Regions from separate parts of the Homo sapiens genome. Here regions 1, 2, 3 and 4 are each linked to region 5. The links come from fine-mapping of genetic effects on gene expression. A gene starts in region 5. Each other region holds a variant in brackets. All regions are shown on one strand. Distances are between the middles of the regions. Region 1 overlaps LOC128966623 (a long non-coding RNA gene). Region 2 overlaps LOC128966623 (a long non-coding RNA gene). Region 3 overlaps RUFY1 (RUN and FYVE domain containing 1). Region 4 overlaps HNRNPH1 (heterogeneous nuclear ribonucleoprotein H1). Region 5 holds the start of RUFY1 (RUN and FYVE domain containing 1).

Region 1 (5,944 bases), 100 kb after region 5:
TCCTCTCAGCCACCAGAGCCTTTGCGTCCCCTGGAATGTCCTTCACACAAGCCATGTGGGCGTTCCCTTCCCCGACGACGGAATCCTGGCTGGGTGTCCTGGTCCGACTCCATGCAGGCTGATTCCGAAACTGACGCCATAATATGCCCAATGTGCAAGGCCCCTGAGCGCTCCTGTCCACACACCTGGTGGGTGCCTTCTAGCCCTCGAGTGATCCGAGGCGTTGGTCGCTGCAGTGATCCCAACCTGGGCCTCTCCTGGAGGCAGGAGGCTGCTAGAGCCTGGTGCCACTGCACCTCCTCACAGTACCCATTCAAGCACCCTAATCTTCCCACCCACCTACCAAAGGCTTCTTTCTAGGGAGACCCCACATGCAGGCAGGCGGAGGCAGGGGTCCCGCTTTCCTCAGCCTGGATGTGCCAACGCTGCTGGACGCACAAGACACCAAAATCCCAGACACTCCCATGGACACCGAATATCCGACATCCACGAACAATTGGGAATCTCCTGAGGACAACTTGGAGGCGCGTCCCCTCATCTGGGCACCCCACAGATGCTGGAAATGCGTGTTCTAATGGATTGGGAGAGAAGGAGATGGGGTCCAAACCTCCAGTCCCTGGAGCCCGTAAATCTCCTTGGGAGGCTTGGCGCCCACAGAGACCTCTTCCACAGCGCTGCACACACAGATCTTCCTTCCTAGAGGATCTGAACTCACTTAGAAAACTGCCAGCACAGGAGGGATAACATCAGCTGTGCACCCCACTGGAGAACCCAGAGACTCTGGGTCATTGTCAACATTGCCCCCAGAATGGGCTCTCTGCTGGGGAAGATGCTCAGGAATTGCTGCTCTTTTGCAATGCCAGTCTCTCCTAACAGAACTGCAGATTCCACGTGTAGACCTGCAAACTTCTGTTCTCTGCAGTTCCCTGAGTCACAGTTTACACAATCACAATTTTTTTTTTTTTTTTTAGATGGAGTCTCACTCTGTTGCTCAGGCTGGAGTGCAGTGGCACCATCTTGGCTCACCACAACCTCCGCCTCCCGGATTCAAGCCATTCTCCTGCCTCAGCCTCCCGAGTAACTGGGATTACAGGCTTGTGCCACCGCACCCAGCTAATTTTTGTAATTTTAGTCGAGAGAAGGTGTCACCATGTTGGCCAGGCTTGTCTTGAACTCCTGACCTTGAGATATCTGCCCACCTCAGCCTCTCAAAGTGCTGGGATTATAGGCTTGAGCCACCACGGCTGGATGAATCACAAATTGTAAACCTGAATAAAATGCTGCAACCTCCAATGAGAGGAAAATATCTTCTTTGTTCAATTTTAGTTATTGTCTAGTCAAATGGTATCAATGTCATAGTTTAAAATTTCATTGGCAACAAGGCCTGAAATAGAGATGGGTGACTTCCCTATTTTGGAAACATGATCAAGACCCACAGCGAGTGGACTCTAGAAATAAACCAGCAGAGGCATGTGGGCTCACACTGGCCTCCAGGGGCTGTGCAACTGGCACATTATTTTGCACATAACTTGGGTCAGGTTTGTGAGGTCTGGTTTTTAAATGAAGCAACAACCATATAAAGATTTTCAAACAAATGAGTCAAATGTATGGCAGTATTTCTATTTTATCCTATGGCAAAATAATTCTTCCTAATTTTAATATTATTTTGTTCCTTAGGATTTGACAGTCTTAATGTTCAGCCAACATGGCTTAAGCTGATAAACTACTTAGAAGGATTCTTTTTTTTTGAGATGGGCTCTTGCTCTGTCACCCAAACTGGAGTGCAGTGGCGCGATCTCGACTCACTGCAACCTCCGCCTCCCGGGTTCAAGTGATTCTTCTGCCTCAGTCTCCCAAGTAACTGGGACTACAGGTGTGTGCCACCACGCCCGACTAATTTTTGTATTTTTAGTAGAGACAAGGTTTCACCATGTTGACCAGGATAGTCTCAATCTCTTGACCTCGTGATCTGCCTGCATCCGCCTCCCAAAGTGCTGGGTTTACAGGTGTGAGCCACCACACCTGGTGTTTTTGTTTTTTTTTTTTGTTTTTTTTGAGACGGCGGAGTCTCACTCTGTTGCCCAGGCTGGAGTGCAGTGGTGTGATCTCGGCTCACTGCAAGCTCCGCCTCCTGGGTTCACGCCATTCTCCTGCCTCAGCCTCCCGAGTAGCTGGGACTATAGGCGCCCGCCACCACGTCCTGCTAATTTTTTTTTTTTTTTAGTAGTGATGGGGTTTCATCATGTTAGCCAGGATGGTCTCGATCTCCTGACCTCGTGATCCGCCCGCCTCGGCCTCTCAAAGTGTTGGGATAACAGGCGTTGAGCCACCCCGCCCAGCCTTTTCATTTGTTTGTTTGTTTGTCTGAGACAGTCTCACTTTATTGCCCAAGCTGGAGTACAGTGGCGCGATCTTGGCTCACTGCAACCTCCACCTCCCAGGTTCAAGTGATTCTCCTGCCTCAGGTTCCCGGGTAACTGGGATTACAGGCGCTCGCCACCACTGCCTAGGCTGGTCCCGAACTCCTGGCCTCAAGTGATCTGCTGGCCTTGGCCTCCCAAAGTGCTGGGATTACAGGCATGAACCACCAGCTATTTTTTTTTTTTTTTTTTTTTTTTTTTTTGCCTCTCAGGCTCAAGCAGTCCTTCTGCCTCAACCTCCCCAGTAGCTGGGACCACAGACACACACCACCATGCCTGACGAATTTTTGTATTTTCTGTAGAGATGGGGTTTGCTGTGTTGCCCAGGCTGGTCTTGAACTATTGGCCTCAAGTGATCCACCTGTCTCAGCCACCGGGTCCGGCCCCTTCATGCTTTTTTGTTCGTTTATTTATTTATTCATTCATTTTAGACGGAGTCTCCCTCTGTCACGCAGGCTGCAGTGCAATGGCGCGATCTCGGCTCACTGCAACTTCTGCCTCCCGGGTTCAAGCGATTCTCCTGCCTCAGCCTCCTGAGTAGCTGGGATTACAGGCGCACTCCACCATGCCCAGCTAATTTCTGCATTTTTAGTAAAGACGGAGTTTCACAATGTTGGTCAGGCTAGTCCCAAACTCCTGACCTCGTGATCCACCCACCTCAGACTCCCAAAGTGCTGGGATTACAGGCATGCGTCACTGCACCAGGCCCCCTTCATGCATTTTTGAATTGAGTTGTTCCATTAGTTGTTGGCAAATATTTTCCCTCATTCTGTGGGTGGCTCCTTACTTTTTTTTTTCTTTTTTCCTTTTTTTTTTTTTGTCTTTTGAGATGGAGTCTTGCTCCGTGTGTTCCCCAGGCTGGAGTGCAGTGGCAGGATCTGTGCTCACTGCAAGCTCCGCCTCCCGGGTTGACGCCATTCTCCCAACTCAGCCTCTCGAGTAGCTGGGACTACAGAC[G/A]CCCGCCACCACGCCTGGCTAATTTTTTTTTGGATTTTTAGTAGAGACGGGGTTTCACCGTGTTAGCCAGGATGGTCTCGATCTCCTGAACTCGTGATGCGCCTGCCTCGGCCTCCCAAAGTGCTGGGATTACAGGCGTGAGCCACTGCGCCCGGCCACTTGTGTTTCTTTTCAAGAATGGACCCCATGGCAGACATCCATGAGTTTTCATGGTCAGAAATTGGTCTCATGCACACCCCAGCCAACCGAGGTGAGAGAAATGGCATTACAGTGATTGGCTTAGACACGTCAGGATATGTCCCTGAACCAGGACAAGAGGCACCTTCTCCAAGGGTGGATCCCAAAGAAAGTCAGAGGTCTTGGCAAAGAATGGGGAAAAGGGATTATGTAGGCAACCCAGTGTCTGCTACAGAATGAGCAGCGGAGAAGAAAGCAACCTGAAAGGCTGAGTAATTACAAAAAAAGACTAAATTAAATCCATACAAGAGCAAGTTTGCTCTGTTTCCACCTTCACTAGGAATGAGGGCTCAGAGCAGGGCATGCTGGGAAGTAGAAAATAAAGTTACCATTTTTCTGTTTCAGCCATAGCGTGTACATATTACCCTACTCTAGCCCACCCCCTTCTCTCACACACAGTAGTTGTTAAAATAAAAACTTGGCCAGGCGGGATGGTTCACCCCTGTAATCCCAGCACTTTGGGAGGCCTAGGTGGGCGGATCACGAGGTCAAGAGTTCGAGACCAGCCTGACCAACATGGTGAAACCCCATCTCTATTAAAAATACAAAAATTAGCTGAGTATGGTGGCACGCGCCTGTAATCCCAGCTACTCAAGAGGCTGAGGCAGAAGAATAGCTTGAACGCGTGAGGTGGAGTTTACAGTAAGCTGAGACTGTGCCATTGTACTCCAGCCTGGGCGACAAAGCGAGACTCCGTCTCTAAAATAAAATGAAATCAAATCAAATCTTGGGCTGGGAGGCCAAGATTATCTGTCCCGAAATTTGACAGATTATAATTATTTTTTAGAAGTGGAATCTTGCTGTGTCACGCAGGCTGGAGTCCAGTGGCACAATCACAGTTCACTGGAGCCTCCAACTCCTGGGCCCAAGCTATCCTCCCATCTCAACTTCCCAGCTGGCTGGGACCACAGGCAGGTGCCACCACACCCAAGTAATTATTTTTTAAGTATTTTTTAATTTTTTGTAGAGACGAAGACTCGTTTTGTTTTCTGGGTTTCTTTTTTTTTCTTCTTCTTCTTTTTTTGACAAGAGTTTCACTCTGTCGCCAGGCTGGAGTCAGTGGCACGATTTCGGCTCACTGCAACCTCCACCTCCCGGGTTCAGGCAATTCTCCTGCCTCAGCCTCCCAAGTAGCTGGGACTATAGGCGGGCGCCATCACACTAATTTTTGTATTTTTAGTAAAGACGGGGTTTCCCCATGTCGGCCAGGATGGTCTCGATCTCTTGACCACATGATCCACCCACCTGGGCCTCCCAGAGTGCTGGGATTACAGGCGTGAGCCACGGCGCCTGGCCCCCTGGGCTGGTCTTGAGGTCCTGGGCTCAAGTAAGCCTACCTCTGAGCCTTCCAAATTGTTGGGCTTATAGGCGTGAGCCACTGCACGGTCTCAAATAATTATTTTAGGGTTGAGTTTTTACTGAATCTGGTGAGTTTGACTAATGTAAGACTTCCCTTTGGCCCTGGGCAAGTATAAAAGATAAATTGAGGCCGGGCGCGGTGGCTCATGCCTGCAATCCCAGCAGTTTGGGAGGCTGAGGTGGGCGGTTCACCTGAGGTCAGGAGTTCGAGACCAGCCTGATCAACATGGAGAACCCCTGTCTCTACTAAAAATACAAAATTAGCCGGGCATGTGGTACATGCCTGTAATCCCAGCTACTCGGGAGGCTGAGGCAGGAGAATCGCTTGAACCCAGGAGGAAGAGGTTGCTGTGAGCCGAAAGTGCGCCATTGCACTCCAGCCTGGGCAACAAAAGAGAAACTCTGTCTCAAAAAAAAAAATTTTTTTTTTAATTAAAATTAAAAAAAAAAAAAGAAAGATAAAGCGAAGTCCATGTGTCAGGAGCAAGCACAGGACAAAGTCACACAGAGCGGTGTGAGAGGGAGGCTGGGAGGGCAGCCACAGCTGTGCGGGGTGGTCTGGAGAGGACATGGGGCAGCCACAGCTGTGCGGGGTGGTCTGGAGAGGACATGGGGCAGCCACAGCTGGGAGCGGGGGCAGGGGCTGGGGAGGAGAGGAGGAATGTGCAAGCTCAGCTGTGCAAGCTGGGGTCAATGGCTACATCAGAACCAGACCCCATTGCTGGTAGCTTCACCGTCTCGCTCTCATGGGGCCTCCCAGCTATCCCAAATCTCCAAGAAACAGACTCAGAGACCTGCGGTCAGAGGTCCAGCGAGGGGGAGAGCGGAAGTGAGCTCCAGGCCACGTACAACGGCAGTCCCGGTTCCCCGCCATGAGCACGACCTGTGTGAGAGCACAGGGTATCTGGGCAGAAGGAAAACTAGGGGAGCCTCATCCAGCGCTGGAGATGGAGAAGCTTTGGGCTTCTCGA
Region 2 (5,944 bases), 81 kb after region 5:
TTTATTTATTTTCTTCTGCTTTTTTAAAAATTTGTATTTATTTATTTATTTTAGATGGAGTCTTGCTCTGTCACCCAGGCTGGAATGCAATGGCATGATCTCGGCTTACTGCAACCTCCACCTCCCAGATTCAAGCGATTCTCCTACCTCAGCCTCCAGAGTAGCTGGGTTTACAGGTGCCTGCCACCACACCCAGCTAATTTTTGTGTTTTTAGTAGAGACCGGGTTTTGCCATGTTGACCTCAGGTGATCCACCCACCTCAGCCTCCCAAATTGCTGGGATTACACGCATGAGCCACCGCACCTGGCCAGGAATGTGTTTTAAAACCAATGATATCAGCTGGGCATGGTGGCTCACCCTGTACTCCTAGCTCTCTGGGAGGCCATGGTGGGCTGATCACTTGAAGTCAAGAGTTCCAGACTAACCTGGCCAACACGGTGAAACCCCGTCTCTACTACATTATCACATCTCATCCTTTTGGCAAAGATCAAGTGTAGGAAAAAAGATAAATTAACCGGGTGTGGTGGCATACGTCTGTAATCCCAGCTACACAGGAGTGTGAGGTGGGAGGATGGCTTGAACCCCAGAGACAGAGGTTGCAGTGAGCCAAGATCACACCACTGCACTCCAGCCTAGGTGACAGAGCGAGACTGTGCCTCAAAGAAAAGAAAATAAATGCAATCATAAATAACCCGGCTGGGCGCGGCGGCTCACGCCTGTAATCCCAGCACTTTGGGAGGCCGAGGTGGGCAGATCACAAGGTCAGCAGATCGAGACCATCCTGGATAACACAGTGAAACCCCGTCTCTACTAAAAATACAAAAAATTAGCCGGGCGTGGTGGCGGGCGCCTGTAGTCCCAGCTACACGGGAGGCTGAGGCAGGAGAATGGCTCGAACCCGGGAGGCGGAGCTTGCAGTGAGCCGAGATCGCGCCATTGCACTCCAGCCTGGGTGACAGAGCGAGACTCCGTCTCAAAAAAAAAAAAAGTAATAATAATGATGATATGTCGCCCAGGCTGGAGTGCAGTGGCATGATCTTGGCTCACTGCAACCTCCCCCACCCAGGCTCAGGTGATCCTCCTGCCTCAGCCTCCCAACAAGTAGCTGGGACTATAGGCACATGCCACCATGCCAGGCTAATTTTTGTATTTTTAGTAGAGATAGGTTGGCCAGGCCGGTCTGGAACTCCTGAACTCAAGTGATCTGACTGCCTCGGCCTCCCAAAGTGCTGGGATTACAGGCATGAGCCACCATGCCAGGCCAGAATTTGTTCGTAGTAGTACAGAAAATAATGGTGGGACTTAAAATTGATGATATTTTAGATTTGATGGAAACTGTTATACTCCAATTATTTTATGTGAAGACATGTTATAGCCATTATAATTATATTTTCATGGATTTCTTAATAATATGAAGTAGACTGGGTGCAGTGGCTTACGCCTGTAATCCCAGCACTTTGGGAGGCCAAGGCAGGTGGATCACTTGACATCAAGAGTTGGAGACCAGCCTGGCCAACATGGTGAAACCCCGTCTCTACTAAAAAAATACAAAAATTAGCCAGGCATGGTGGCACTTGCCTGTAATCTCAGCTACTTGGAGGCTGAGGCAGGAGAATCACTTGAACCTGGGAGGCGGAGGTTGCAGTGAGACTAGATCACGCCACTACACTCGAGCCTCGGTGACAGAACGACTCTGTCTCAAAATAAAACAAAAAAACAGAACCCTGAGATTTGCAAAAGAAAATATGCAGATGACCGGGCTCATGCCTGTAATCCCAGCACTTTGGGAGGCCAAGGTGGGTGGATTACCTGAGGTCGGGAGTTCAAGACCAGCCTGACCAACATAGAGAAACCCTGTCTCTACTAAAAATACAAAAATTAGTCAGGCGTGCTGGCAGATGCCTGTAATCCCAGCTACTTGGGAGGCTGAGGCAGGAGAATCGCTTGAATGTGGGAGGCGGCGGTCGTGGTGAGCTGAAATCTTGCCATTGCACTCCAGCCTGGGCAACAACAGTGAAATTCTGTCTCAAAAAAATAAATAAATAAAAGAAAAAGAAAAAGAAAAGAAAATATGCAGATGATCCATAGGCTTGAGAAGTGTCCCTTTGAGTGGTAACCAAAGAAATGCAAATTAAATAAAATAACGCAAAGCCTTTGCAACTAATTTTCAAATTAATGATCATTTAAAAGAGTAATTAAGAGAGCTGGAAAGGATGCAGGGAGATGCCATCAAGGTACATTGTGCTTGGAGTGTAAATTGGTACACCCTCTCGCTCAGGGCTATTTGCAGTATAAATGCATACATTTCGGCCTGACGCGGGGGCTCACGCCTGTAATCCCAGCACTTTGGAGGGCCGAGGTGGGCGGATCACAAGGTCAAGAGATTGAGATCATCCTGGTCAACATGGTGAAACCCCGTCTCTACTAAAAGTACAAAAAATCAGCTGGGTGTGGTGACGGGCGCCTGTAGTCCCAGCTACTCAGGAGGCTGAGGCAGGAGAATGGCGTGAACCCGGGAGGCAGAGCTTGCAGTGAGCCGAGATCGTGCCACTGCACTCCAGCCTGGGCGACATCTCAAAAAAAAAAAAATCTCAAAAAAGAAACAAAAACAGCTCAAAAAAAAAACAAAAACAAAAATCAAAAAACATACATTTCATTAAAGCATACATTCCATTCCTACTTTTGCACTGATTTAATTACAAGATTGTTCATGGCAGCATGAAATAGGGAAGCTTTAGAAAACAATTTAA[T/A]GTCTAATGAAGTATGGAATAAATTCTGGTATGAATGCATGGGGGTAGTGGGATGGGGAGGCTGTGAGGGGGAAGGAAATAAATCTTAGGTAACATAATGGTTTGTTGCCTTCCAAAGGGCCACAGGACATGAAAAGATATACGTTACGGTATATCTATGTTATTAAAATATCATGTGGTGGGAAACTAGGAAAAAAGATCTAGAAAGGATCTTTAAGATGGCGATCATGAAAAAAAAAGTTGAGAAAAAATGATCTAGGTTCCGTGTGGTGGCTCATGCCTATAATCTCAGTACTTTGGGAGGCCAAGGCAGGCACATCACCTGAGGTCAGGAGTTCAAGACCAGCCTGGGCAACATATTGAGGCCCCATCTCTACAAAAAGTTAAAAACATGCTGGGCGCGGTGGCTCACACCTGTAATCCTAGCACTTTGGGAGGCCGAGGCAGGCAAATTACCTGAGGTCGGGAGTTCAAGACCAGCCTGGCCAACATGGTGAAACCCCGCCTCTATTAAAAATACAAAAAATTAGCCAGGTGCAGTGGCGTAGGCCTGTAATCCCAGCTACTCAGGGGGCTGAGGCAGGAGAATTGTTTGAACCCAAGAATTGGACGTTGCGATGAGCTGAGTTCGCGCCACTGTACTCCAGCCTGGGCAACAAGAGCAAGACCTCAAAAAAAAAAATTTTTTTTTTAAATATTAGCCAGGCCTGGTGGCACATGCCTGTAGTTCCAGCTACTCAGGAGGTTGAGGTGGGAGGATCGCTTGAGCCCAGGAGGTGGAGGATGCAGTGAGCTGAGATCGCGCCCCTTAACTCCAACCTAGGCAAAGTGGGGAGACCCTCTCTCAAAACAAACAAACTTTAAATTTCTGAGTGATAAACAGCATCGGCCGCCTCCGGGACCTGCTCGGGTGGTACACTGCAAGCTGCGGAGACTTAAGAAAAGGGCGTCTCGGCCGGGCGCGGCGGCTCACGCCTGTAATCCCAGCACTTTGGGAGGCCGAGGCGGGCGGATCACGAGGTCAGGAGATCGAGACCATCCCGGCTAACACGGTGAAACCCCGTCTCTACTAAAAATACAAAAAAAATTATCCGGGCGTGGTGGCGGGTGCCTGTAGTCCCAGCTACTTGGGAGGCTGAGGCAGGAGAATGGCGTGAACCCGGGAGGCGGAGCTTGCAGTGAGCCAAGATCCCGCCACCGCACTCCAGCCTGAGTGACAGAGCGAGACTCCGTCTCAAAAAAAAAAAAAAGAAAAAAGAAAAGGGCGTCTCGGTTAGAGCCCGGGTATGGGGTAGCACCCCCTCCCCCGCCGCGGCCAGGCAGCACGGTCCGCCCTTGCGGCTGGGATCCCCGCGTCTCTCCGCCTTCGCTGGAGCCCCACTGTTGTGTTGAAGGAGACCGTCCTTCCGACGCCGAGTCCGGCTCCACAACCACGTAAACGAATTGTGGATTCAGACACCATGAGCGGCGGAAACAAAGGCGTCCCCACAGTGTCCAGCCGTCCGCTGAGGAGAAGGGTCTGCCCGACGGCCACCTGAGGAGGGACCGAGCACGCCCTCTCCGGTTCACGCTGCGCGCCTCCTCCAGGCGGACAACGCAGGCGGCCGGTTTTGAACTTTCCGGGTGCGAACCTCCCAAGGCTTCAGCCAGGTCACTCACTGTCTAAAGCCAAATCAAATATCTTTTTTTTTTTTTTTTTTTTTGAGACGGAGTCTCGCTCTTGTTGCCCAGGCTCAGCTTCCCGAGTAGGTGGGATTACAGCCCCACCAAGCCCGGCGAATTTTTTTTTTTTTTTTTTTTTTTTTGAGACGGAGTCCTGCTCTGTCGCCAGGCTGGAGTGCAGTGGCGCGATCTCGGCTCACTGCAACATCCAGCTCCTGTATTCAAGCGATTCTCCAGCCTCATTCTCCCCACTAGCTGGGAATACAGGCGCCCACCACCACGCCCAGCTAATTTTTTGTATTTTTAGTAGAGACGGGGTTTCACCATGTTGATCAAGATGATCTCAATCTCTTGACCTCGTGATCCACCTGCCTCAGCCTCCCAAAGTGCTGGGATTACAGGCGTGAGCCACCATGCCCAGTTAATTTTTGTATTTTCAGTAGAGATGGGGTTTCACCATGTTGGTCATGCTGGTGTTGAACTCCAGAGATCAGGTAATCCGCCGCCTCAGCCTCCCGAAGTGTTGGGATTACAGGTGTGAGCCACCACGCCCGGCCTGTTTGTTTGTTTGTTTGTTTGTTTGAGACAGTCTCACTTTATCGCCCAGGCTGGAGTGCAGTGGCACAATCTCGGCTCACTGCAAGCTCCGCCTCCCGGGTTCACGCCATTCTCCTGCCTCAGCCTCCCGAGTAGCTGGGACTACAGGCACCCGCCCCACACCCGGCTAATTTTTTTTTTTTTTTTTTTTTTTTGTATTTTTAGTAGAGACGGGGTTTCACCGTGTCAGCCGGGATGGTATCCATCTCCTGACCTCGTGATCCACCTGCCTTGGCCTCCCAAAGTGCTGGGATTACGGGCGTGAGCCACCGTGCCCTGCCTGTCCAAAAAATAAAATAAAAAGCCAGGCGCAGTGGCTCATGCCTGCAATATTAGCACTTTGGGAGGCCGAGGTGGGCAGATTGCCTAAGCTCAGTAGTTTGAGACCAGCCTGGGCAACACGGTGAAACCCTGTCCCTACTAAAACACAAAAATTAGCCAGGCGTCGCAGAGTGCACCTGTATTCCCAGCTACTCGGGAGACTGAGGCAGAATTGTTTGAACCGGGGAGGCAGAGGTTGCAGTGAGCCGAGTTCGGGCCACTGCACTCCACACTCCAGCCTGGGTGATAGAGCGAGACTCCGTCTCTAAAATAAATAAAATAAAATAAAATAAAATAAAATAACAAAGTAAGCAGTAAAACCATCCAGGCTTGGTAGTCACTATGGTGCTTTCCTCAGGGTCCCCTCCCACAGGCGGCTACTGAGGTCATTTTATCAGGCCCCCTGGGCTCACCTTTTGTTCCATCCCGCACAGGTGAGCCGTCTGGGCAGGCTTTGGCCAGCTTCGCGCAGGTGCCACTGCACAGACTCTCCCTTCAGAGCAGCGCTGGAGGACGGGGTCAGGAGTCAGTGCACAAATCCCTCCTGTCCTTGGGGCCGGGCAGCCACCGCGGCGGGGAGACCCCTCGCTAAGGAGGAGTGTTGGTGTTGCCT
Region 3 (5,944 bases), 23 kb after region 5:
TAGAGTCAGGAGAGATTTGGGAAGTCAGGTTGATAAAATGGCACAAAGGAGAGTAACCAGTAAGGTGTAGAGTGCTCTGTGGGAAGGACAGCCCTCTTGGGATGGGCTTTCTTCCTGCATAGGAGCTGGTGACCAGAGCCAAGGCCTAAACTCCTGGTGGCAGGGACTGTAAATGTGTGAGGGGAATAGGTACCCTAACCCATTCCTCACTTCCACCCCCTCTTCGGGGCATCCGCAGCTGTAGCTGGGCCACTGCCCAGAAAAAAGAGATTATTTTACACTACCTAGCAAAATTCCCAGCCTTTTTCCTGCATTGTGTTTGGTGAATCTAAAGATTCCCTGATCCCTCCATGTGCAGGTCAGTGTTTTTTTATAACCTCTCCTCCCTTTAAAAAAAAAAAAAGTTCGATTGTCTTTGCATGTTGAAAAATATCTTTTTTTGAATTCAGAGAAGTATTTTTGAAAAGACACTAAACATCACACATATTCTCATTACTCTTAGACCGATAATTCAGTGTTACATTCTGGTATACACCCTTCTAGCAGATGAATAAAGGTGTGTGCATGCATGTGTGTGTGTATATGTTTGTGTATTTTAGAGTGAGATGTTCGAAGGGTTTCTTTTTTTATGAAACCAAACTATGATTATTTTAAGCACACCATTTTGTAATTTTAAAAAATTTAACAATATGTTCCACACAGTTCTCAATAACGAGAGATATAAACCATTTAAAATGACTATGTAGTATTTCATTTTTTAACGTACAATTATGTAACCAGTACCTTATTAATTTAGATTGTTTCCATATTGTGACAATACTATTGCTGGGCACATGGCTCACGCCTGTAATTCCAACACTTTGGGAGGCCAAGGTAGGAGGATCACTGGAGCCCAGGAATTTGAGACCAGCCCGGGCAAAATAGTGAGACCTTGTCTCTACCAAAAATTTAAAAAAATTAGCCGAGCATGGTGGCATGCTGTCTGTCATCCCAGCTACTCTGGAGGCTGAGGTGGGAGGATTGCTTGAGCCTGGGAGATCAAGGCTGCAGTGAGCTCTAATCATGCCACTGCATTGCACTCCAGTCTGGGCAACAGAGCCAGACTCTGTCTGGAAAAAAAAAAAAAAAACACCAATATTATAGACATCCTTGAAGTTCTCTGTACTCTTGTCCGTGTATTTCCTTAGGATAAATTTGGGGTTGTTGTGTCAAAGTATACAGGCTACATTTTGCTAGATAACATAAAACGGACCTCCAGAAAGGTCTTCATTATATACACCCACCAGCAGTGTGGGAGAGAACACATTTCCTCCTGACACTGGATGTGATGAGCATTCTCAGTCTTTTTCAGCCTCATGGACAAAACAACTCATTATCTCAAATTTACAAGTATTTTCCTGTTTTATTTGCCATTGGTGGTTCAGCATTTGTGATTATCTTTTCATATTCTTTGTCCATTTTTGAGTTTTCTTTCTCTACTTCTTTATTAAAGACTAAGCACATTGACCCTTTTTCAGAATTATTTGTTATAAATTTTTTTTCTGGTTTCTCAGTGGTGGTTTGCCCTGTAAGTTTTTTATTTTTAGTTTTTGGCAACCAGATTTAGCAGATGTTTCCTTTATACCTTCTAAGGTATTGTGCTTTGAAGGTCCTTCCCTATCTAAACATTACCCTAACTTTTAATATCAAATGTGGGGAGCTGGAACCTGAGTCCACGCGTCTGGTTGTCAGTCTGTCCAGCCTTTACCGCCACAGCTTTCAGTCATGGCTTCCAGTCAGTCGCAGCTCGGAAAGCCAGCCCCTGACTTCAAGGCCATTGCCCTGGTGGATGGCGCCTTCCAGGAGGTGAAGCTGTGGGCTACAAAGGGAAGTACGTCGTCCTCTTTTTCTACCCTCTGGACTTCACTTTTCTGTGGCCCATGGAGAACGTCGCATTCAGCGACCATGCCGAGGATTTCCGCAAGCTGGGCTGCGAAGTGCTGGGTGTCTGGGTGGACTTAGTTCACCCACCTGGCTTGGATCAACAACCCCCAGAAGTAGGGAGGCTTAGGCCCCCGAGCATCCCCCACCCGCTGATGTGACGGGAAGCTTGTCTGAAGATTACTGTGTGCTGAAAACCAATGAGGGCATTGCCTACCCTGCCTCTTTATCATCGATGGCAAGGGTGACTTTTGCCAGATCACTGTTAATGATTTGCCTCTGGGGTGCTCCATGGATGAGGCTCTGCAGCTGGTCCAGGCATTCCAGTACGCAGATGAGCACGGGAAAGTTTGTCCCACTGGCTGGAAGCCTGGTAGCGACAATGAAGCCCAATGTGGATGACAAGGAATACTTCTTCAAACACAACTAGGCTGGCCGATGGATAGTGAGCTTGTGCCCCTACTGGGTACCCTGTGCTAACCCAGGAAAGGCCAGACCTGCCCCTCCAATCTCCACAGTCTGGGACCCTGGAGGGCCAGGCCAAGACCTTCTGCTTCTACCTGGGTAATTTTTTACACACTTTATGTGTAAAAAATGTGTAAATTTTACACATTTTTGCCATTTGTTTTGGCATAGTGTGAAGTAGGAATCTAAATTTCTTTTACAAATAGTTAACCAGTTTTTGCAATATCATCATGTAATATATTTTTTCTACTAATTTGAAATTCCACTTTTATCATATGTGAAATATCCATAATATGCATTGGTTTATTTCTGGACTCTTCTGTTGTAAATCTGAATCTGTGTTCCTATGCCAGTGACACATTCTTTTAATGACTGGAGCCAGATAGTATATTCTAGACTCTGGTAGTTAAGCGCCTGCCTACTCTGCTGTACTTCTGTTTCAAATATTTCTG[G/A]GCCATCCATTCTGCCAGATGAACTTGAACATCGTTTTGTCAAATTCCAGAATAAAAACTCCATTGAGATTTTAATTAATTAATAGACATGAGTGAGCAATCTGGTCTAGTGCTATCTTGAATGGCAGTGCCTATAGTGTGTTCTTCAAACACACTATAGTATACATAATCATATACATAATAGTATACATAAAGTATACATGTTTGCTGCTGATGTCTGAGGGATGCGGTTTCTCACGTTTAGAGAGTGCTTTCCACTCCAGTTTACCTTGTGTTTTGTTGTTGTTGTCGTTTTGTTTTTTTCTTTTTTTTGAGATGGAGTCTTACTCTGTCGCCCAGGTTGAAGTGCAGTGGCATAATCTCCACTCACTGCAACCTCCGCCTCCTGGGTTCAAGTGATTCTCCTGCCTCAGCCTCCTGAGTAGTTGGGATTGCAGGTGCCTGCCACCATGCCCGGCTAATTTTTTGTATTTTTAGTAGAGATGGGGTTTCACTATGTTGGCCAGGCTGGTCTTGAACTCCTGACATCGTGATCTGCCCACTTTGGCCTCCCAAAGTGCTGGGATTACAGGCGTGAGCCACCGTGCCCGGCCTACTTTGTGATTTTTTAAGAGATGAATGTTGAATGTTGTCAGATACTTTTTTTGGATCTATCAACATGTCAACCTGCTTTTAACCCATAAATATAATTGAACTAATTCATAGGTTTCTTATTGAATACTATCCCTGAATTTCTAAAATAATCCCTACCTGATCATTGTAAACCCTGGATTTGATATGTTTACTGTTTGGAATTTTTGTGTCTCTGCTTGTAAGTGAAACTATTCTGAATTTTCTATACTGCCTTTGCCACCTTTCCGTGTCAGAATTGTATTAGCCTCATAAACTGGAAGGCCGGGCGTGGTGGCTCACACTCCCAGCACTTTGGGAGGCCGAAGTGGACAGATCATGAGGTCAGGAGGTTGAGACCGCCCTGACCAACATGGTGAAACCTGGTCTCTACCAAAAATACAACAATTAGCTGGGCGTGGTGGCGTGTGCCTGTAATCCCGGTTACCCAGGAGGCTGAGGCAGGAGAATCGCTGGAACCTGGGAGGCAGAGGCTGCAGTGAGCTGAGACCGTGCCACTGCACTCCACTCTGGGCAACAGAGCAAAACTCCGTCTCAAAAAAAATAAACATAAAAATAAAATAAACTGGAAAATAGCCTTCCTTTTCTTGTTTTCTACCGCAGCTTATTAGATCAGGAATTATTTTTTCTGTGCAGGCTTGCTAGAACTTACTGGTATGACCACTTCACCCTTATGCCTTTTTTGGTCTTTGTTCTTTGACCACTTTAACTTTTAGCATAGTTTTGATCAATTTATTGGTTTCCTAAGTCTTAAGACAATTTTTAAAGTCATTTATAATTTTTTTAGAAACCATTTCATTCAGCTCTACTAAGCTAGAGTTGTATGAAAGTATTCTCTTACAGCTTTTGAAAAATCTCACTGTTCTCATTTATAATGTGTATTTGCTAAATATTGATCACACTTAGTAGAAATTTGTCTACTTGGTTGAACTTTGACAAACCAGCTGTCTTATTTATCAATTCTACTTTGGGAGTAGGGCTTTATTTGCTTTCTAATCCATTGATTTTTGCTTTGGGTATTAATTCTTTCTCATCTTTCTGTTGCTTTTTCCTGGCTGTATTTTTTTATGATTTGGTTTTTTATTATAAAAGAAATGCTTGCTTGTTGAAAAAAGTTAGGCAATACCAAAGTATATAATGTGAAAAGAGAAGTTGAACCTCCTCTTCTCACCCCACCCCCCGCCCCAGCCGCAGTCCTCCTCCCTTTCCCACAGGTGATGGTAAAGATTCTGGGGAAAATTTTTCTAGAAGCTTTTCTACTTTTTCTATACATTTATGTTCACGTAGGTTTTGTTTTAAATTAAATATTTTCTGGTCTTCTATTACTGTGTAACAAGTCAGCAACAGCACTTAAACAATAACAATCACTGTATCTTTCACAGCTGGGGGCTAACTGGGTTCAGCTAGTCGGTTCTTGTTCAAGAGCGCACGTGCTTACAGTCAGGTGATGGCTGGGGCTGAAATCACCTGAAGACTTGCTCTCTCCTCGTCTGTCTGCTGTGCTGAGAAGACCAAGGAACTGGGGGCTGGAATGGCAGGGGTTTCTTGGACATCTCCATGTTTACATGGTCTCCAGCATTGTGGCTTCAGGGAAGTCAAGACTTTTTACATGAAAGCTCAGAACTTCAAACGCATATGCCTCAAGAGAAAGAGCTGGGTGGAAGCTGTATTGCCCTTTTTAACCTAGCTGCAGAAGTCACACGGCATCATTTCTACTGCATTTTACTCATCGAGACAGGCACTAAGACCCCCCAGAGTTGAAGGTTGGAAATATGGATGGATTCCTTTTGGTAGGTGTGTCAGAGAGGTTGCAGACATGTGTTAGAACCGTTACACATAGCCTTGGTTGCAACATAAGTAGGGTTACTATAATGAGATTGTACATATGATTCTTTGACTTGAAATTGTATCCTGGAGTTTTGTTGTTTTTTTTGTTTTGTTTTGGCAGTGTCTGACTCTGTCACCCAGGCTGGAGTGCAGTGGCATGATCTCAGCTCACTGCAGCCTTAACCTCCTGGGCTCAAGCAATCCTCTCACCTCAGCCTCCCAAGTAGCTGGGACTACAGGCATGTACCACTGCACCCAGCTAATGTTTGTATTTTTGTGGACACAGGGTCTCACTGTGTTGCCCAGGCTGGTCTTGAACTCCTGAGCCCAAGCCATCCACCCTCCTGAGACTCCCAAAGTGCTGAGATTACAGGCATGAGCCACCGTGCCCAGCTTTTCTATATTTCTGCAAATGTATCTACTGCGTTCTTTGTTATAGTTGCATAGGTTCTGTGATATGGCTGTAACATGATTGATTTCAACTTTTCTCTATTGATGAACATTTAGGGTACACCCAGTTTTCCTGTATTTCAGATAAGAATGACCTCACTTATTCATTCTCAAGTGCTTTATTTCTTGGCAAAGCCGTTGATGTTTAGATGTGTAAGGGGTCTTGGTTCTCCCTTGTACCTAAGGGATAGAGAATTTTC
Region 4 (5,944 bases), 63 kb after region 5:
CTTGGGCAAGACTCAAGGATTCCCCCTCCATCCTATACCGCTTAGGACTGTGCGGCCAGACTTCAAGACGAGGTCCGCCCTGCTCCAAAGCCATGTCCTAGCAGGGTTCCAACCCTATTAGGCAAGCACATTGGCAGCCCTCCCCTTTCCTCACCCCTCACCGTAACAGCTGCCGTCTCATACAGGGCCAAACTTTCAGAAAAAACTGCCTATCACTCACTACCCCTAACTGGCATATATGACATCTGTGCCTTTTCAATACACCCAGTTTGGACCCCTAACTTGCTGGGCAGCCTTAGGCAAGTCAGTTCACTTGAGTCTTAGCTCTCATCTGCACACACAAAAGCAGAATAATCTATCCCTCCCCTACTTCAAGTCTGTTCTGACAGCTCAGTATAAAAACATGCAGGAGGTTCCCACCTCTGTGCCTGACACTTGGGTATAAACACAAGTGTTTAAGTGAAATTTTCAAAGTTGGCAATATTTGGTCAAGATAACTTCCCTACTCAGAAACTGAAATATATTCCAAGCCCTAACTCTGGAATCTCCAGTCCCTGGTCTGCTACCATACCACCTTTACCCAGGCCTGAGAAATGAAAGATAGATATTTTAAGGCAGCACTTCCCAAGTCAACTGAGGTAGGGGTGAGTGGTCAGGATTTTGTTTAAAATGCAGATTCCAACTGACAAGGTCAGGAGGTTAAGTTACTGCAAACAAGCTATGGAGCATAAGATTCCAAAGAACCATAATGCTTCTAGACTTTTTTTTGAGACAGGAATTTCGCTCGTTACCCAGACTAGAGTGCAATGGCACGATCTTGGCTCACTGCAACCTCTGCCTCAGTAACTGGTATTATAAGCGTGCACCACCATGCCCAGCTAATTTTTGTATTTTTTAGCAGAGACAGGGTTTCACCATGTTGGCCAGGCTGGTCTCGAACTCCTGACCTCAGGTGATCCACCCACCTCAGCCTCCCAAAGTGTTGAAATCACAGGCGTTAGCCACCGCCCCTGCCCTAGACTAGCCGTATGGCTCTGGATTTAGTTTAACCTTACTCCAAGTTTCTAGTTCTACTCCCTTCTCTAACAGGGCAAGCTTTATCCTTAAATGTACCACAGTTAACTAAAGAACCCAGAGAAGGGACCTTCAATCTTTCTCAATACTGGGCCTCAGTACCAAACTATTAACGCAAGATCTCAAGGGCAGTAACCAAGCTTAGAACACAGCTCAACAACTCTCAACACTGCCTCCCCCGACAACTGCTGTTCTCTAGACCTGCCAAAGACAAAACCAACAATACACATTCCAGACCCTTCCCTCTGCTAGTGTCCAGTCCTGGTAGGGGCAAGCAAGGTAGATCTGCAAAGCCCTCCCCTCCATGTCTCCTGCATGCACTGCTCCTGTGGGCAGATGGTTAGAAATGACCGATACTAAGCCACTCTGTCCACCCTACCTAGCTCTACCCCAACAACAAACTCAAGAAAAGCTCGTGTAATCGCAGAAAAGAGAAAGCTTATCCACACTTCGCTTTAAAGGGCGGCCGGGCGCGGTGGCTCACGCCTGTAATCCCAGCACTTTGGGAGGCCGAGGCGGGCGGATCACGAGGTCAGGAGATCGAGACCATCCCGGCTAAAACGGTGAAACCCCGTCTCTACTAAAAATACAAAAAAAAATTAGCCGGGCGTAGTGGCGGGCGCCTGTAGTCCCAGCTACTTGGGAGGCTGAGGAAGGAGAATGGCGTGAACCCGGTAGGCGGAGCTTGCAGTGAGCCGAGATCCCGCCACTGCACTCCAGCCTGGGCGATAGAGCGAGACTCCGTCTCAAAAAAAAAAAAAAAAAAAAGGCACAAGCCTATGTGACAGCCTAGTTCAGACACTACATTCTAATTTCATTATCAGGGACTTGAATCTAATGGGATGAAAGTAGTAGCGGCAGTTCCCACACTGCAGCACCCCTGAGCATCTGCTGAAGGAACCCCGGGAGCGTGCTTTTCAGGACTGCTTTTGTGATACCCAACCTTGTATTAACACGAATAGACTCTCCCTTACATGCCTAACCTTGTTTTTAATATGAAGACTCCCTTCGCTGAGAAAACCAGGCCAACTCCATTTGGCTCCTTCATTTACAAGACATCAAGGGCTCCTTACCCACCCCCCTTTCCTCAAGGACTTTAACTTGTGCAAGCTCTCAACGTATCAAAGAGTGCAGTTAACTGATAAGGTGCTGAGGCAAGCGATGTCCAGTTCCCAGCAATTTACTCAGAGATGGTACCATCAAGCCCCCATGTTTGTCCGGTAGATAACACCCAGAGCCCCCTCACCTGTCACTTTGTGATGAATTTGAAGCTCCTGCACCTGGAACTGTTTTCCTGTAACCATTTGTCTTTAACTTTTTTGTCTGTTTTTCTTCCCTAAGATGGCTGCAGCTAGAATCCCCCTCCCCTCTCCAAACCAAAGTATAAAAGAAAATCTAGCTCCTTCTTCGAGGCCGAGATACTTTCATGCGGTAGCCGTCTCTCGGTCGCCGGCTAATAAAGGACTCCTGAACTCGTCTCCAAGTGTGGCGTTTCTAACTCGCTCAGGTACACCACTTGGAAGCAGCTTGAATACTTGCTATCATCATGTTGGA[G/A]CTTCGAACTACCAAAACGTGATATATTTAAGAGTTCATTTAAACTTCTCATGTTAGCTCTCAATCTCTACCTATCGTTCTACCTTAGGAGACTTACATGGAATTTTGCTTCCAAGTGGAATTGATTTTTAGGAATGACCCAAAAATACAGAAGTTCAAAACTTCCATTTGAAAACCATCTGTGAAGGCTGGGCAATGGCTCCAGCCTATAATCCCAGCACTTTCAGAGGCCGAGGTGGGCAGATCTCATGAGGTCAGGAGTTGGAGACCAGCCTGGCCAACATCGTGAAACCCCGTGTCTACTAAACATACAAAAAAAATTAGCCTGGAGTGGTGGTGGGCGCCTGTAACCCCAACTACTTGGGAGGCTGAGGCAGAAGCCCACAAGGTGGAGGTTGCAGGTGAGCTGAGATCACGCCACTGCAATCCAGCCTGAGACAACAGAATATAACTCTGCCTCAAAAAAAAAAACAAACCTATGAGCTTATGAGCTAGAAGAAACCCACATATTCATCACACCTCCCTTGCCTCCGGCACCTTCCCAGCCAAGCATGAAGGCCTCAAAGACATGCAGGCATGCAGTGAGGGCACTGGCGCCTCCCCCTTTGTTTTGTGCAAGTGCTTAATGAGTTACAGGCAGTTCAGATCAGGTCCTGTGCAGCCAAATGACATACAGCCCTTCCACCAGGGCCCCAAAGACGAGTTTACCTTCAGTTGCACTGGAGGGAAGACTGAAGACATCTACGCAACAGCCTCAACTGCCAAGCCAGAGATGTGGCCCTAGGCCCCAGGTGGGCACAGAGCACCAAGACTCAGTCCACATGACACTGAAGCACAGACAAGACAGAGTGCAGTTTTTAAAAGGAGGATTTATTTGACAAGTTTCACTTAGCGCAATATACCTAAAAGGAAATCACAATACAATGAAAGATTTAAATCAAGGCCTCAGAATTTCATACAAACACCAAGACCAAAATCCTAAGTATTGGTATTGCGTCTCAAATTTTTCCCATTAACTTAAAAAAAAAAAAAGCTTAAACTTACGTGCCTTACAGGTTATTAAATGAAACTAGAATTAACAAACATGCCAAAATGTTTCACTTTTAATAGTAGACACAGCTCCTATATTGTTTTACAAAAAAATAAAAGCATGTCTTTCAACATGCATCCAAAACAGTGTTCAATTTAACGTGGCAAAGGGCAACATTTAACATAATTCAACTGCTTTTACCTAAATACGCTTACTGCTTAAGTACATCCTATAACTAACTTGAGAAAAGCTGGAACTTAAGTTTAACAGTTATAGTTTACTCAGCTTCACTGTTACATCCTAGATGAGTATTGTATTCAAAAATACTGGGCCTTAAGTCTTCATAACAATCCTGATTTCCACTTAGAGTAAGCATAAATCACAAGCTTGTATTGCAGAAACTGTTAAACTGAAGTTTTCTTAAAGAAAAAAAAAAAAAAAAAAAAAAGGTTGACCAAGAGTCAGTGATCAGGATCGATCAATTACATTCCCCATCCACCACTCATACTGGACATGCTAGACAACCCTCCCATTCCGTTCACGCCCATAGATGCACGGCTTCCACTACTGTAGTAGCTGCTGTTCACTGCTCCTTGGTTACCTGCAAAGAGATCAATTTGACAAGTTAGGAGTAATATCAGACTACCAGTCAAATAAAATATAGTATTCCAAGAAAAAGTTTAAAAAGTATACGAGTACAAATGGCTGCTGTCCAAGTGGCGAGACGCATGTTTGGGAAAGGGGAATCCCGACTCCAAACAAGCCTCAATTAACCCCTTTTCTCTGCAGTACCAACTTGCCAGACTCTTGTGCTACCATTTTAACGGATTCTTCAGGATCAACATGAAAAATTAAGTTTAAAGGAAAACTAGTGTTTTTCAAAAATTGCAAAATTACTTCGTATTTTTAAAGCTAAACAAGGCATTTTTAAAAAAAATTTAACATAAACATTCACAATGTGTCCCTCGAATGGCATTTGAGAAAAGGGAGCACAGGGGAAGTCTCTTGCTTTTCCTATTCATGGTGGGCAGGAAGTGAGACAACCAAGCTGGACTAAAGGCAACTCACTGTGCCCAAATGGCAGCCTCCATGGAGTTAAGTCAGAGCCATTGACTGCTATAGAAAGCATTATTACAACATATCAGTATTTGCTATTGGGAATTTATATTTTTTGAGAAAATATTTACCTATGCAATGTTTGATTGAAAATCACTGGAGTTTTCCTGTAAAACTTGGTCTGCAAAAGGATTTTGTAGGGTAAGACTATAATACCAAAATCACCATTCTTTAGACCAATTGAAAAAAAATAAATAAAACCAATCCTAGGTTAACTGACTAATAAATACGATCCTGAACCCAACCACCATTCTACTATTTCAAATTCTCCCTCTGTCTAAAACTGACTTAATGCTAACCAAAAGACAAAAAAGTGAACAACTTTATTTAATGTTTTAATACATGGAGGCAGATATTTTCTGGCTCGACAGTATTCCAAAGCTGCAATGACTAGTTCTTAATTCAAAGAACACTTCCCCCTCCCAATGATTGTTTCTGAAAATTAGCTAGTAAAAACAGTTACATTTGGATTGAAAGCATACATTTCATAACCCAATTTCACCGAAAGGAGCCTGCATCTTCCCAACTAAAGGCACCTGCCTGCGACTTACTCTAAGTACAGTAACAGGCTTTACCATAACTTACTCTAAGTACAGTAATGAACAGGCTTTACCATAACTTACTCTAAGTACAGTAACAAACAGGCTTTACCGTATCCACTCATGCTGCTCTGGCCACCGTAGCCGCCTCCGTAACCCCCACTCAGCTGCTGGCTGGCTGGGCCCCCGTAGCTGGACTGGTTTGCTGTTAAGTTAAGAAAACATTAGAACCTTTTTTCTTATGTGATGTGGTACCTGGTGGTACCGGGCTTGTAATTCTATAGCTATCATTTTCCAGTCTTGATCTTACATTACTGTAACCCTCTGCCTCCTTCTGCCTACTGTCTATAACCAGGCCACCCTTCTATCCATCATTTGAGCCAGTCAAATATTGATAAACCAAAGTGCTAACGGTACACACATCAGCAGGACTAAAATCAACATGATTCCGTAAGTAGAGGCATTTTGTGAAGATCTTATGAAACTGCTTGACTGGATTTAGTGGGTTCCCCCTCAGTTTGATACATCAAAGGCATGTCAATACACCTAATTATGCCCACATTTATCTTAATCCTGTTTTGCTATTGATTTAAACTTTATACTTAGAAAATTTAAGTAGTTTCACTCCGTA
Region 5 (5,944 bases):
GTAAGAACACATACAACATTTATCAATTAAGTTTACCATCTTATATGGGTGCAGTTTGTGGTGCCCCAAAACAATTAATAATAGTAACACCAAAGATCACAGATCACAAATCATATAACAGATGTAAGGGTAGTTTAAAAGTTTAGAATATTTTGAGAATTACGAAAATGTGAAACAGAGGCACAAAATAAGCACGTGCTGTTGGGTTGCCAACAGCAACTTTTTCTTTTTTTGAGACGCAGTTTTTTTTGCACTTGTCGCCCAGGCTGGAGTGCAGTGGTTCGATCTCGGCTCACTGCAACCTCTGCCTCCCAGGTTCAAGCGATTCTCCTGCCTCAGCCTCCAGAGTAGCTGGGATTATAGGCTCCCACCACCACGCCTGGCTAATTTTTGTGTTTTTAGTAGAGACGGGGTTTCGCCATGTCGGCCACGCTGGTCACGAACTCCTGATCTCAGGTGATCCACCCACCTGTGCCTCCCAGAGTGCTGGGATTACAGGCGTGAGCCACCGTGCCCGGCTGCCAAAAACTTTAATTTGTTAAAAAAGCAATAAAGCGAAGCACTATAAAATGAGATATATTTCAATATGTAAACGAGGCACAACTACCACTGAAATAACATAGACATTTGCACGTGTAATTCTGAACAAATCAATTTAGCTACGTTCCAGGAAAATTTAGGGTACACTTATGGTAGTCATTACACTGCTCACAAAGATTCCCAGTTGTGGTTTTCCCAGACAGAAATAGGTCTGAACTTCCCAACTCCCTAGAAATTAAACGTGGCCATGTGATTTGCTTTCACCAATGAAATGTGCATAAGTGACCTTTGTCATGCAGGACTGGAGCATGTAATATTTATGCAAAACTCCCAACAGGCTGGGTCCTGAGAGACTACAATGAGTTGGGCAGAGTACTCACCCCATCTACATTGACATGTAGCATGATGAGAAACCAGCTTTTAGGTTAAGCCATTGAGATTTGGGGGTTGTTACTGAAGAATAACCTTGCCTGATAAATGTTGAAACTGTTCCCCCAAAAAAGAGTTAATGTTTTTATACAAAATGGAATTCGGTTCCACGCCCTGATCATTATAAACAAACTTTTCACCTACATAAATGTCCAGTAGCATTGGAAAGTCATGAAGGATTCGGGACAATGCTGTTATTCTAGACTATCTTCATCCCTGTCTATGCATCCAGTAAAGACTAGTAGGGCCGGGCTCAGTGGCTCACGCCTGTAATCTCAACACTTTGAGAGGCCGAGGCGGGGGAATCACGAGGTCGAGAGATCGAGACTATCCTGGCGAACATGGTGAAACCCCGTCTCTACTAAAAGTACAAAAATTAGCCAAGTGTGGCGCCACGCCCCTGCAGTCCCAGCTACTTGGGAGGCTGAGGCAGGAAAATCGCTTGAACCCGGTAGGCAGAGGTTACAGTGAGCCGAGATTGCGCCACTGCACTCCAGCTTGGTGACAGAGCAGGACTTGGCCTCAAAAACAAACAAACAAACAAGACCAGGCCGGGCGTGGTGGCTCACGCCTCTAATCCCAGCACTTTGGGAGGCCGAGGCTGGCGGATCACGAGGTCAGGAGATCAAGACCATCCTGGCTAACACGGTGAAACCCCGTTTCTACTAAAAATACAAAAAAAAAAAAAAATTAGCCGGGCGTGGTGGCGGGCACCTGTAGTCCCAGCTACTCGGGAGGCTGAGGCAGGAGAATGGCGTGAACCCGGGAGGTGGAGCTTGCAGTGAACCGAGATCGCGCCACTGCACTCCAGCCTGGGCGACTGAGCGAGACTCCGTACGAAAACAAACAAACAAAAAAGACTGGTAGTATGCCCTCAGTCATTACACAACTCAAACACCAACTCCACAAATTCCCAAAACACTCCTAGATGAAGTGGTATCCCTTCACTGAGAACTGGCCTTTCAGGGACCAGACATATCATGCAACCTAGTGAAGTGGGCTGGACCAAGACAGGTCCAGGGAGCAGCTGGGCGTCTAAAGGGGCAGCACAGTTTATTCCCAACAGTTTGTTGCCATCTGGGAATATGCCATGAGTTACCAAATATTCCAGTGATTCCAGAGAAAGCTAAAATCCAGATTCTTATGTGAAATCTTTTGATTTCTAAATATTGGCAACAAGTTTTAAGATTTGTAAACATTCTGGGAATCAAAACAGCTCTGCTGGTTTGGTGTGGCTCATGTTGCCTCACTTTGCAAAGTGTTAAGTGCTAGTAAATTTTAGTGTTTTTTCTGAGACAGGGTCTCACTTTGTCGCCCAGCCTGGAGTGCAGTGGCCATGATCTCCGCTCACTGTGGGATCGACCTCCCGGGCTCAAGCGATCCTCCCACTCTCAGCCCCCCAAGGAGCTAGGAGTAGAGCTGTCCCGCCACGACATCTGGCTGGTTTTTTGTTGTTGTTGTTGTTGTTGTTTTGGTATTTTAGTAGAGACGGGGTTTCGTCCTACTAAAGGCCCGCCTGGGCCTTCCGAAGTGCTGGGATTACAGGCGTGAGCCACCGCGCCCGGCCAAAATTTTCCTTTGTACTTACTCAAATTCCTTTCTTTTCCAAGTGAAGAAACAGACTGAGTGTATAGTGACTTACCCAGGCCACACAGTTGGATACCAGAGATAGTAGTCACAATCGCTAACATCTGCCATGTGGTCCTTACTGCAAATCTTATTTAATAATGAGGTCGGTTTTTGTTATCCCACTTAACTAATCAATAGGAGAAGCCACCTCTGATTTCCAGTCCACTATCGTGCACTCTTTCTTGCCAAGCCGTCATAGTCATTAGATTAAAAAAAAAAAAAAATTCCTGCTTTCCTGCCTCGCCTGTGCGTTTCCTTAGTCGCCCTTTCGGGGCTTGTTCTAATGAGTGCTACAGAAAAATGACGAAGTGGAAAATATAGACCATGAAATGAAAATTTAAAAGAGGAAATGGTGTCACAAAGACAACGACGGCCAGGGAACCCCGTGAAGCGCCGGGCAGGGTGCACAACTGTCCTCGGAGAAAGTTCAAGAGGAACTTCCCCGCGAACAGGTCCTGCCGGCGGCCGGGAATACGCACACTTTTTATGTTATGACTTGGACTTTCCCGAACCTTTCGAAACAGAGGGAAGGCGAGGCGGTGAAGAGGGAGAAAAATCTCCCCCACCTAAGGCAAAGGCGATGCCCGCCCGCCCCCACCCCGCGCCCGCCCGCCCGCTGGGTCACATGACACGGCCAAGATGGCCGACCGGGAAGGCGGCTGCGCTGCTGGGCGGGGGCGGGAGCTGGAGCCGGAGCTGGAGCCGGGGCCGGGGCCCGGGTCAGCGCTTGAGCCGGGAGAAGAGTTTGAGATCGTGGACCGAAGCCAGCTGCCCGGCCCAGGCGACCTGCGGAGCGCAACGAGGCCGCGGGCGGCCGAGGGCTGGTCGGCGCCCATCCTGACCCTGGCACGCAGGGCCACCGGGAACCTGTCGGCGAGCTGCGGGAGCGCGCTGCGCGCGGCCGCGGGGCTGGGCGGCGGGGACAGCGGGGACGGCACGGCGCGCGCAGGTAGGCTCGGGCCGGGTCTGTCCCGCGGCGGACTCGCGTGTCCCCGCTGGCCGCCGGCGCGGGCGCGGTGGGGGCCGGGCTGGGAGGGCACTGGCCGTTCCGGGAGGTTACGCGAGCTGTTGGCGGGCGGGCGGCGCCTGGCTGCGCCTGGGTCTTTACTCCGGCGGCCCAGCCGAGACCGCCCCCCGCAGCCCCGCGTGCCTGAGCGCGCTCCCGCACCCGCGCCTCTATGCTCTCCCACTAACTAGGTGAAGGACGTGTGCGCGTCCGGGCTTCGGAACTCTGTAGTAACTCCACACACGAAACGGAGCCAGCACTGTTCTGCTTTTCAGCCGTTCAGTGCGGGAGTGGAGCGCCGGCGGGTGTTGGGAGGGCGTGGGCCCTGCGCGCAGCGGACCAGCGGCGCCTCCGCTCACCTCTGCCTGTGAGATGGGGATTTTAAAGTCACCCGATGATCTCTTAAAGACCTTTTCAGCCCTTGTAATGAACAGAGTGCCAGCATATCAGTGATAGTAAGAGTTAAGTAACTTAGCCCTCTAACGCCAGACATCCAGAGCTGTGCTATCCAATACAACAGCACGCATATGTTTTTGTGTGTGTGTTTTTGTTTTTATTTATTTTTATTTTTTTGAGACCGGGTCTTGCTCTGTCGCCCAGGCTGGAGTGCAGTGGTGCGATCTCGGCTCACTGCACCCTCTGCCTCCCGGGTTCAAGCGATCCTCCCTCCCGCCTCAGCCTCCCGAGTAGCTGGGATTACAGGTGCCCACCACCACGCTCGGCTAAGTTCCCCGCCCCCACCCCCCTCCCATATTTTTAGTAGAAACGGGGTTTCACCATCTTGGCCAGGCTGGTCTTGAACTCCTGACCTTGTGATACACCTGCCTCGGCCTCGTAAAGTACTGGGACTACAGGCTTGAGCCACCGCGCCCGGCCGGATTCCTCAATTTCTAACTGAATCAATTGAAATTCAGTACTTTTAAATTGAATTAAAAATTGAGTTCCTCGGCCGGGAGCGGTGGCTCACGCCTGTAATCCCAGCACTTTGGGAGGCCGAAGCGGGTGGATCACGAGGTCAAGAGATCGAGACCATCCTGGCCAACATGGTGAAACCCCGTCTCTACTAAAAATACAAAAAATTAGCTGGGTGTGTTGGCATGCACCTGTAGTCCCAGCTACTCAGGAGGCTGAGGCAGGAGAATCGCTTGAACCTGGGAGGCAGAGGTTGCAGTGAGCCGAGATCGCGCCACTGCACTCCAGCCTGGGTGACAGAGCGAGACTCTGTCTCAAAAAAAAAAAAAAAAAAAAAAACTTGTTCCTCGATTACAGCGGCCACATTTTAAATGCTCAGTAGCCTGTGTGTGGCCAGTGGCTACTGTATGAGATAGCACATAATAGAACATTGCCAACTTCATAGAAAATGCTGGGACAGAGCTGAGGAAAGGTTGTGGTGCCTTCCAAGGAGCATCATAGCACACACTCGAGGCTTCCTGATTCCTCCCCATCCACTGGTACCTTTGCTGTAGATGCACTGACCCCAGGTAGTGAATTGTGAGATTTTCAGTGGTCAAGAATAATTACTGAGTAAAGTTGAAAGGCTGACTCGTTTTGAGATCCTGGCAGTGGAAAATAGCATTAGAGGATGATGAGAGCCTGGGCAGGCCGGGAATCTACTGCCCTCTAGCTTGACACCTTTTCCCGAGACTTTTCCACACATCAGTGGATGCTGAGTTGCATACTCATTGACAGTCAGTACTGAAAGTCAAGGCATGGCGTCTCCTGGAGGCCTCTTAGATATTTCGTGGCAGGAGTAAGCAAATAATAAAAGTTCTTCCCTGCTAGAATTTCTTTCCTTTAATGCAGAATCAAGGAAAAAATTAAAAAGATAAAATGAAATGTGTCAGTACCTGGCACAGAATAATAAGTGTTTGCTGAACAAATGCATATTTGAAAAATACCTGTGTTCCATCTATGGAAGTGATAGAAACAATAGCCAACACTTATATTGTCCTTCAAAGGTGCCAGGCATTAGTCTTAAACCTGTACAAGTATTCATTCATTCCTCACAACAACCCTATGTGATAGCAGGACTAGCTTCATGGGTGGACAGTCAATGCAGGCTTTGATCACTCTGGTGGAAAGGGCCAGGCACTCAGAAGTATCCCATGCTTGAAATTCTTAATTTTATCTTTGAATTTGTGTTTTTTAAGTGAAGTCCAATGGGACAGGTTCTCAGTTGCCCTGGCCCACTCGAGCTGCCCTGGGGCTTCTCCCTACCCTCCCTGATCCCACTCTTGCCCAGGCAGCGTTGGGATTGCACCCTCCGAATCTCAGGGCAGGGTGGCTGGTACCACAGCACATTAGGCAGGCAAGTGGGCAGGGGCCTCTCACCTGTCCCAT

What was found. PIP is the estimated chance that this variant, and not a neighbour inherited with it, causes the effect.
Region 1: its variant is the best candidate, but not a certain one, in a credible set for the expression of RUFY1 in stomach (GTEx, PIP 0.65).
Region 2: its variant is the best candidate, but not a certain one, in a credible set for the expression of RUFY1 in T cells (TOPMed, PIP 0.72).
Region 3: its variant is the best candidate, but not a certain one, in a credible set for the expression of RUFY1 in fibroblasts (GTEx, PIP 0.82).
Region 4: its variant is the best candidate, but not a certain one, in a credible set for the expression of RUFY1 in whole blood (TOPMed, PIP 0.86).

The regions. Positions count from the first base shown.
Region 1 is chr5:179,651,934-179,657,877 of GRCh38, forward strand. It overlaps LOC128966623 (a long non-coding RNA gene), which reads left to right. Exons shown (of 5, transcript NR_185480.1): 5 at 56-1,308. It overlaps LOC100502572 (chromosome 5 open reading frame 60-like), which reads left to right. Exons shown (of 4, transcript NR_171894.1): 3 at 361-524; 4 at 972-1,300. It overlaps LOC105377763 (a long non-coding RNA gene), which reads left to right and starts at 5,829. Exons shown (of 3, transcript NR_134260.1): 1 at 5,829-5,944. The variant G/A (reference allele first, on the strand shown) is at 3,378.
Region 2 is chr5:179,628,321-179,634,264 of GRCh38, forward strand. The region is part of intron 4 of LOC128966623 (a long non-coding RNA gene); the gene reads left to right. It also overlaps a transcript of HNRNPH1 not described here. Among named protein-coding and RNA genes, the nearest start is that of HNRNPH1, 7.6 kb to the left of the region's middle. RefSeq lists an enhancer at 4,184-4,684. The variant T/A (reference allele first, on the strand shown) is at 2,752.
Region 3 is chr5:179,570,392-179,576,335 of GRCh38, forward strand. The region is part of intron 5 of RUFY1 (RUN and FYVE domain containing 1); the gene reads left to right. The region is part of intron 4 of LOC128966623 (a long non-coding RNA gene); the gene reads left to right. It also overlaps the pseudogene PRDX2P3. Among named protein-coding and RNA genes, the nearest start is that of RUFY1, 23 kb to the left of the region's middle. RefSeq lists an enhancer at 1,488-1,988. The variant G/A (reference allele first, on the strand shown) is at 2,838.
Region 4 is chr5:179,610,701-179,616,644 of GRCh38, forward strand. It overlaps HNRNPH1 (heterogeneous nuclear ribonucleoprotein H1), which reads right to left. Exons shown (of 14, transcript NM_001257293.2): 12 at 5,426-5,518; 13 at 4,846-4,895; 14 at 3,478-4,259. The coding sequence ends at 4,846. All of the region lies in intron 4 of LOC128966623 (a long non-coding RNA gene), which reads left to right. Among named protein-coding and RNA genes, the nearest start is that of RUFY1-AS1, 9.9 kb to the left of the region's middle. RefSeq lists an enhancer at 3,128-3,187. The variant G/A (reference allele first, on the strand shown) is at 2,629.
Region 5 is chr5:179,547,333-179,553,276 of GRCh38, forward strand. RUFY1 (RUN and FYVE domain containing 1) reads left to right here and starts at 3,222. Exons shown (of 18, transcript NM_025158.5): 1 at 3,222-3,547. The coding sequence starts at 3,238. The region is part of intron 4 of LOC128966623 (a long non-coding RNA gene); the gene reads left to right. LOC105377762 (a long non-coding RNA gene) reads right to left here and starts at 3,172. Exons shown (of 4, transcript XR_941315.4): 1 at 2,612-3,172. RefSeq lists a silencer at 3,147-3,856.